Homo sapiens: one gene and its partner. The protein of the gene in region 1 purifies or fractionates together with the protein of each later gene. This does not show direct contact. Each region holds a gene or a part of one and is shown on either strand. Other genes may lie near its edges.

Region 1 (3,916 bases):
GTATGTGTCATCGCCACCTCCGACTCCTTTAATGCTAATACATTTTTTTTAATCTCATGGGATTTGTGGCAGAGCCAATTTATATCTAAAGCTGCATGTGTTATTCTAAGTGGATTGTCTTAACTCAGGAACTTCTAGGAGCTTCATGGAAATTGCTATCGTTAAGTCATGCTCAGCCAGCTGCTCCTGGCTTCTGGTGTAAGCAAATGCAAAAGAGGCTTCTACTACTCAAGCAGAGAGAAGCCTTCTACAGGGAAGAAAACAGACACACGGATGTACAGTTGCTTCATGCTGTTGAGTTGCAATGTGTTTTCTGTCTCTCAGCCTGGAAGAGAGCATTCATGGCAGTGTGAAGAAATAGCCCAAAACTTTCCAAAAGCTTTTTCTTTAATTAGATCTTTCTACCTAAAGCAGAGGAACAGATTCTTTGTGATGGTAAAGGAAGAGTGTTTTTGTAAATCTGGGGATAATACCAGCAGCAGTAACTGATCATAATTCAGAATCAGTGATTCAAGTAGAAAACTATGTCCTGAATTTCTTTAAAAATCACCTCCACAGCCATAAAAAAGGAATGAGATCATGACCTTTGCAGGGACATGGATGGAGCTGGAGGCCATTATCCTTAAACTAACGCATGAACAGAAAACCAAAAACCGCATGTTCTCACTTGTAAGCGGGAGGTAAATGATGAGAACACATGAGCACATAAAAGGGAACAACACACACTGGTGCCTGTTGGAGGGTGGAGAGTGGAGGGTGGGAGGAGGGAGAGGATCAGGCAAAATAAATAATGGGTAGTAGGCTTAATATCTGGATGACGAAATAATCTGTACAACCAGCCCCCAAGATACACGTTTACCTATGTAACAAACCTGCACATGTACCTCTGAACTGAAAACTTAAAAAAAAAAGTTAAAAAAAAGTCACCTCCGTGTTTTATTATCTCTAAAACACTGATAATATCAGTCCTTACAGCTTACTCTCTCTCTCTCTCTCTGTCTTACACACACACACACACAGGCACACACACACATTCATTTATTTGGCACTAACTAAACCCCCTAGTGGCATAACAAACAAAAACAAGCCTCTTGGATGCTGAATTATCAACTTCAACATCCACATCCCCATTTTACACATATGGAAACAAAACCATAGGATAAATGATTTGCTTGCAGTGGTATATGGGAGGCAGAACCATAGCTGAGGTATTCTGCCATATTTGAAAGCCGTTTTCCCTATACAAATGCGTCCTACCCAGGCCTACTGCACCCAGAATTCTCAGGAGAAAATCCGTAAATCTAACTATTGCAAGTGCCTCGGGTGATTCATGTCAGTTATATTTAGGAGTTCCATCCTGCACTGCTCTGCTGCAGATTTCAACAGAGGTAGACCTAGTAACAATCACCAAACTATTCAACAAGCTCGATGTCCTAGGATCTATATAATAGCTGAGTCAAAAATTCCTTGAGGCCAGAGACCCAGGATTTTAAGTCCATGTCTCTTAGCCCAACTCCCTTCAGGTACAGGCAATGCAGCATTCATGCCTCGTAATTACCATCACCCAGGCTAGTCATCATACATGGGAATGTTTCTACTCATCCCTATTAAGCAACCTGTCACTCCTATTGCATTTTCTGTAAATACTTAGAGACTGGTATGGAGCAATGGAAAGTTGAAGGAATTAATTCAGAAGGTCCCTAACTCTAACCACAAAGCTTGAAAGAGCAGCCCTACCTGTACAGAAATGTGAGAGATAATAACCCAGCCAACTTCTACTAATTAATTTATTTTTTTGCCCAGCTCTCTATCCTATACCACATAGTGTACTTTATTTAAATTACCATTCTTCACTGATGACCAATATAAATTAATGCCATACTACTGCTCCAAATTTTATCATAAGCCAAGACATAGTTAACTGCAAGACTGGAAGACAGCTTTTAGGATTTTGGTGAAATAGGCAGGCCCTTCTTCACATCAAGTCAAATAAATATCACTCACCATCAGACCTGCTCCTATAATTCCTGGGAACCACCACTCAAAGCAAGAGATGGGGTTTTGAGAAAATTGGTCTTCCTCAACTAAGCTGACAATTAGAGGTATCGCATTGAGAACTACTCCTAACAGCAGTAGAACCAGCAGGCTGAATCCATTGCAGGATGTCCATCCTTCGCAGCAGGTCATGGTCACCCCTGGCTCAGAAACGTTGTCAAAGTGGCTATGCTTGCATGGTACTATGTTGCCTTTTATCCCAATCTTCTGGTTAAAATTTAACGCTAATAAAAAATGAATAGTGGAAAATAGTTCAGAGTCCAATAGGGTAGGACATTATTATGATGACTATGATGGGAAATGAGAAAATAATTCCATATTATGATGAGGTGAAGGAAGGAAAGCAGAAAAAAAAATCTATGAGATAAATTTATGTAAGAAGATAGGCTTACGATAAGCTCCTTTAATATACTCCTTTATTAGTATGGCTTCTAAAAAGTAAAAACAAAAATATCCAGCTAAACTATATTTTCCTGTTCTATCGATATTATTACCAGCTATGGAAGTTTCTTATTTTGAAATTGTTCAACAAGAAAATGAACACGTATGAGATGTGGAGAAAGGTATTTCCTCTGCTGCAAATATTAGAGTTTATTTCAAGCCGTATGCTCACATACACAAAAGAAAATGTTTATGTCATATTATTCCAGTGTTGCAGACTAACCCATTTAGAGATAGCCCACCTAAGACATGTGAGAGCTTTGGCTAATGCTACCAGACTGAAAGATAGCAATAGGAGAGAGATTGGATGAGGAGATTATCATATTTTATTTAAGCCCTTGAACACTTACTTGGCCATGTGCAGTACTTTACATCTCTAGACTGTGGTTCCACATTGCCTCTCCACTAGCTGGTGAGCTCCTTGAGAAAAGACTATCAGTTGGCATAAGCTTTAAAATACAAAAGTTCTGGCCAGCTGCGGTGGCTCACGCCTGTAATCTCAGTGCTTTGGGAGGCCAAAGCGAGAGGATCACCTGAGGTCAGGAGTTCGAGATCAGTCTGGCCAACATGGCAAAACCCTCATCTGTACCAAAAAAACAAAAAGTAGCCAAGCGTGGTGGCACATACCTGTGATCCCAGCTACTTGGGAGGCTGAGGCCAGAGAATCACTTGAACCTGGGGGGTGGAGGTTGCCATGAGCTGAGATTGCACCACTGCACCCCAGCCTGGGCGACAGAGGGAGACTCCATCTCAAAAAACAAAAACAATACAAAAGTTCTTGCTTATGCTGACTGACCATCCTGATCTAAATGGGGTCATGGTAGTTACTGAAAGACCTAGACTTAGACCTAGACCTAGACTGGCAGAGGCAGCTTCTTGATCCAGGCTTCCACAGTCACAGAGGCAGGGTACAAAAATGTGGTGAGCCACATACTGGATCTATATGTTTCTGCCCAGAAGCGACCCACATCACTTCTGTTCACATTTCATTGGCCAAAAAAGTCACTCAGTTATGCATGAGTTCAAGTGGGTGGAAATACAAACCAATATGTCTAGGAGAAAAGATTGGGACATTAGGCAGCTCTAATCTCTACAGCGCCTTCCTTCTGCTTCTGTGTAATCCCCCGCTCAGCCCAGAGCATAGATTCAGTGAGTGCTGTTGGGAATGGTGAAATAATGTATGCAGCGGTGCAGTCAGTGTGGGCCAAAAGCTCAGGCGTAGTAGGCTTAGAGAGCAGCGCTCCACCCTGCAGCAGTGTGGGGGGCGCACACAGCCTGGTACAAGGGGCATCCCTGGTAATGGACACCAAAACAGTAGCTCCAGACTAGGGGGTCCAGTTACTGGACCTCAGTGAAATGTGAAATCCTTTGTATGAAAGGATTTGTATAAAAGGATTAAAAATAACCCACCTATTGGCTG
Region 2 (3,916 bases), on another chromosome or scaffold:
CATCCATCCATCCATCTTATCTGTACATTCATCCACTCATCCATTTATCCTATTATCTATCAATCATCTAGCTATCTATCCATCCATCTAATCTATCCATCCTACATATCCACTCTACCTATCTATCCACCTAATGTATCCATCTTATCTACTACTTTATGTATGTATTATCCATCCATCCATCCATCCATCCATCCATCCATCCATCTTATCCATGCATCCATCTGTCCATCCATCCATCTATCCTGTTATCTATCTATCTATCTGTCTATCTACCCACCTACTTATCCAGCCAGCCAGCCATCTATTCACCCTATCTGTGCATCCATCCATCCATCTATCCTATTACCTATCTATCTGTCTACATTCCTCCTGCTCTATCTCTCTTGGGGCCACCCCCAAGTCCCAAGAGCGCATCCCAAGGCAGAAGGAAAAGACACACTGTCCACTCACAGAGGCCCACTTAGCTTGAGAGGAAAAATTTCCTTGTTCTGGGAGTCATTTCAGCCCAGAGGTGGGCATATGAGGAGGTCCTCACAGGGGAGGTTTGTGGGGAGCAGTGTGGACTCAGGACATGTCCCTAAGGCTGGTCCCCACATCCCTTCATGCCCTGGCTGGTTCCTCCACCAGCCACACAGGTTCCAGTTCCTCCCATGGAGAAGGTTCTGCACACAGGGGACCTTCCCTTCTCAGCAGTCACTAGGGGAGCAGAGGTGACTCTAACTGTCCATCATGACAGTGGCTCCCACCTGGGAGAAGCTTCTGCACCAGGCTCTGTGCTAGTGCATCCTGTGCACCCTCCCACTTCACCTGTGGACACACCCATCAATCCTGCCATTTGCAATGAGCAGATTGAGACCACGTTCCGCAAAGGGGAGAGCAGGTCTAAGTCAGAGGGCAAGGTCTGGGGGAGGAGAAAGGTCAGGGAAGGCTTCTGAAAGGGGAAGTGAGTGGCCAACTTTTATGTGGGTTTGGCAACAGGACCCCATTGGGACATCTTACTGGGGAGGAACAAGATAAGAGGAAGGTGCCTCCGGATGTGGTGGAGGTGAGAGACAGCCCACACCTCTCCTCTGGCCCACCTATACCCTCATAAGAGGAAATAGGCCAGGTAGGGAGAGGACCCTGAACAGTGGGTACAGGAGGCCTCGAGTCCAGCAATGGAGAATGTGGGAACGCCAGGGGTTCACCTTTCTGTGCACCCAACCCCCTGCCCAAGAGCCCCGCAGAGGTGCATTAATGTGGAAAGACAGGCAGGAAAAGGATTCAACACAGGCCAAGAGTGGGAGAACAGGGAGGTGAGAAGGGCTTGGGTTGGCACCTCACAGAAATGAGTAAGCAGAGGAATGAGTAAGACGCCTCCCCTGCTTCTCTGCCACCCCAGACCCCAGCCCACCCCCTCTCACCTGAGCCTCATTCTTACCCCTCAGGAAGTCCATCCACCCTGAGACCCCAGACCCGTCCTGCTGCCACACTCACCAGGCCCAGGTGACCCAAGAACCAATTCCGTTTCGGGGGTTGCGGGAAACACCGGAGGCGGCAGCAGTTGTCATAGAAGGTATAGGTCCAGGCCAGGATGCGGGCCAGGAGCCAGGAGGCCCCAACCAGCAGCAGGAGCAGCCACGGGGATGCTGCCATTGGCCAAAGGCCCAGCGAGGACAGGCTCAGCTGTGGCATCCTGCAGGGCAGATGGGGTGGTGAGTGAGGTCCTGAGGCCCAGGGAAGGGCCCAGGGAGCTCCAGGGACAGTGGAGAGAGGCAGAGACGGGCAGTGCTGGAGATAGAACAGTAAGAGTAAACAGGGATGGATAAACAGGGGCTGAGGGGTAAAGTCCAGAAAGGCCCAGCCAAAACCAGCAACCAAGTGGCCTCCAGTTACCCGGTAAGCACTTAGATTGAGAAAGACAGAGAAACTGATTAAAGTCCAGAAAGGCCCAGCCTGAATCATTAGGACGTTGCCAGGGGCTTGGTTTCAGTTAGAAAACCACTCATCCTCCAAGCCAGCAACCAGGAGCTGCCTGGGCCTTGGGCAGCAATGGAGAATGTGGGAAGGCTGGGGCTCCCCTATGTGTGCGCCCAATCCCTTGCCCAGTGCCCATCTCCATCACAGGCTAGGATGCCCCAGGCCCACCACCCCCACCCTGGCACCTTCTGTCAGGAGCACCTTGTCCCACACAACCTCCTCTCCCCTTCTTCTGGGAGGTTTTTTCCCCTGGCCCCTGATGTAGGGAAGGCTGTGGGAGGCTAGGCTGGGCTGGGCTGGGCCAGCCAATCCCCACAGCCTGGGTGCCGCTCCCATGTCTGGGCAGCTGGCCAAAACCTGGGTGTGGGAGACCAGCTGGATGCAGAGGAACCAGCTCAGGGTGACACAGCACAGGCACTGGATCCTCAGGTCTCAGCACCTCCCACATAAGGTGGAGAGTAAGCCGAGAGGGGTCAGATAGAGTTTCCACTGTGTGACACCTGCTCTTAAAGAGCACCTACTGAGTGTGTGGCAGATAAAAGCATGAACTTGAGAGTTCAGGTGTCAAGCGAGCCAGGCCAGGCCAAGCCTTGTTCCAGATCATCTCCTGTGCTCCTCTCTAACCCTGGGCCGGTAGGACACCGTGTACCACTTCTGGATGCTGAATCAGGCAACCTGGAAGAGACAAGCCTCTATCCCCCTGCTGCTGGATGGAGTTCAAGTCTTGCCTCCAGGCAGTCCAGGGCCCTGTTGGAGACCTGACTGCTAGGAACGGGAACAAAGAATCCAGCCCCACTGAGGATTACCTGGGTCAGATTCTGGAGATTAAGAGCTCAGCTGGAAAAGCAAATCTGGAGGCCGGACTCAGTATAGGAGGACAGAGCGGGGACGTGGAGGGTTAGGATGAGAGGGAACGGATGGGGTCCAGGCAGGGGAAGGGCAGAGCCAGGGAACCATGAATGGAGTCCTCATTCTGCCTCATCCTTGCTCTGACTTTGGTCAGTACTGCCCCTCCTGGGTGCAGTCTTCCCATCTGGGAAATGGGATGTTCGATGAGGGCCTTAGCGGGGGACAATGAGGGCTCCTAAGAGGAGGGAGCCCCAAAAAGGAGTGAAGGGAAAGGGTGGCAACTAGCACTTGAGCTGCTGTGTGCCAGTCTCTACTCTGCACAAAGGCTGCATGGAAAGTACTTCTACTGTGTGCCAATACTCTAAATGAAGGGCAGCTACTGTGTGCCAGGTGCTAAATCCTGTCTACTCTGTGCCAAGTGCTTTCCATAAAGTGTGCCTACTGTGTGCCAGGTGCTCTACATTAACCCTGTATACTCAGTTCCTGATATTCCTCATAGAGTGCCTACTGTGTGCCACCTGCTCTACATAGTGAGTGCCTATTGAGTGCCACCCCCTGTATATGAAGAGTGCCCACTGAGCACCAGTTGCTGTCTACATAACACATGCCTACTGAGTGCCAAGTGCTCTACATAAACAGTGCCTACTGATACCACCTGCTCTATATGGTGACTTCCTACTGAGTGTTTCCTGATCTACATAAAGAGGGTCTATTGAGTGCTGCCTGCTCGAGTGTTGCCTGTGCTCCATAAAGTGTACCTACTGTGGGCTGCCTTCTGTACATAAAGGGTGCCTACTGAGTGCTGCTTGCTCTACATGAAGAGTTCCTACTCTTGCCTGCGCTACATAAAAAGTGCCTACTCAGTACCACCTGCAATACATAAAGAGTGCCTACTGGCCAGGCACAGTAGCTCATGCCTGTAATCCAAGCACTTTGGGAGGCCAAGGCAGGCAGATCATCTGAGGTCGGGAGTTCAAGACCAGCCTGGCCAACATGGTGAAACCCCATCTCTACTAAAAATACAAAAATTAGCCGGGCGTGGTGGCGGGCACCTATGATCCCAGCTACTCGGGAGGCTGAGGCAGGAGAATCTCATGAACCCGGG

What was found.
Region 2: the proteins of TM4SF20 (region 1) and CYP4F3 purify together in Homo sapiens (affinity purification with mass spectrometry; one large-scale study listed by BioGRID and IntAct). This does not show direct contact.

The regions. Positions count from the first base shown.
Region 1 is NC_000002.12:227,377,082-227,380,997, forward strand, and holds the start of TM4SF20 (transmembrane 4 L6 family member 20), read right to left. Parts: upstream 2,226-3,916; 5' UTR 2,188-2,225; coding exon 2,005-2,187; intron 1-2,004. UniProt on the Homo sapiens protein: Polytopic transmembrane protein that inhibits regulated intramembrane proteolysis (RIP) of CREB3L1, inhibiting its activation and the induction of collagen synthesis.
Region 2 is NC_000019.10:15,639,177-15,643,092, reverse strand, and holds the start of CYP4F3 (cytochrome P450 4F3), read right to left. Parts: upstream 2,197-3,916; 5' UTR 2,148-2,196; intron 1,782-2,147; exon of another isoform or gene 1,679-1,781; 5' UTR 1,678-1,678; coding exon 1,480-1,677; intron 1-1,479. UniProt on the Homo sapiens protein: A cytochrome P450 monooxygenase involved in the metabolism of various endogenous substrates, including fatty acids and their oxygenated derivatives (oxylipins).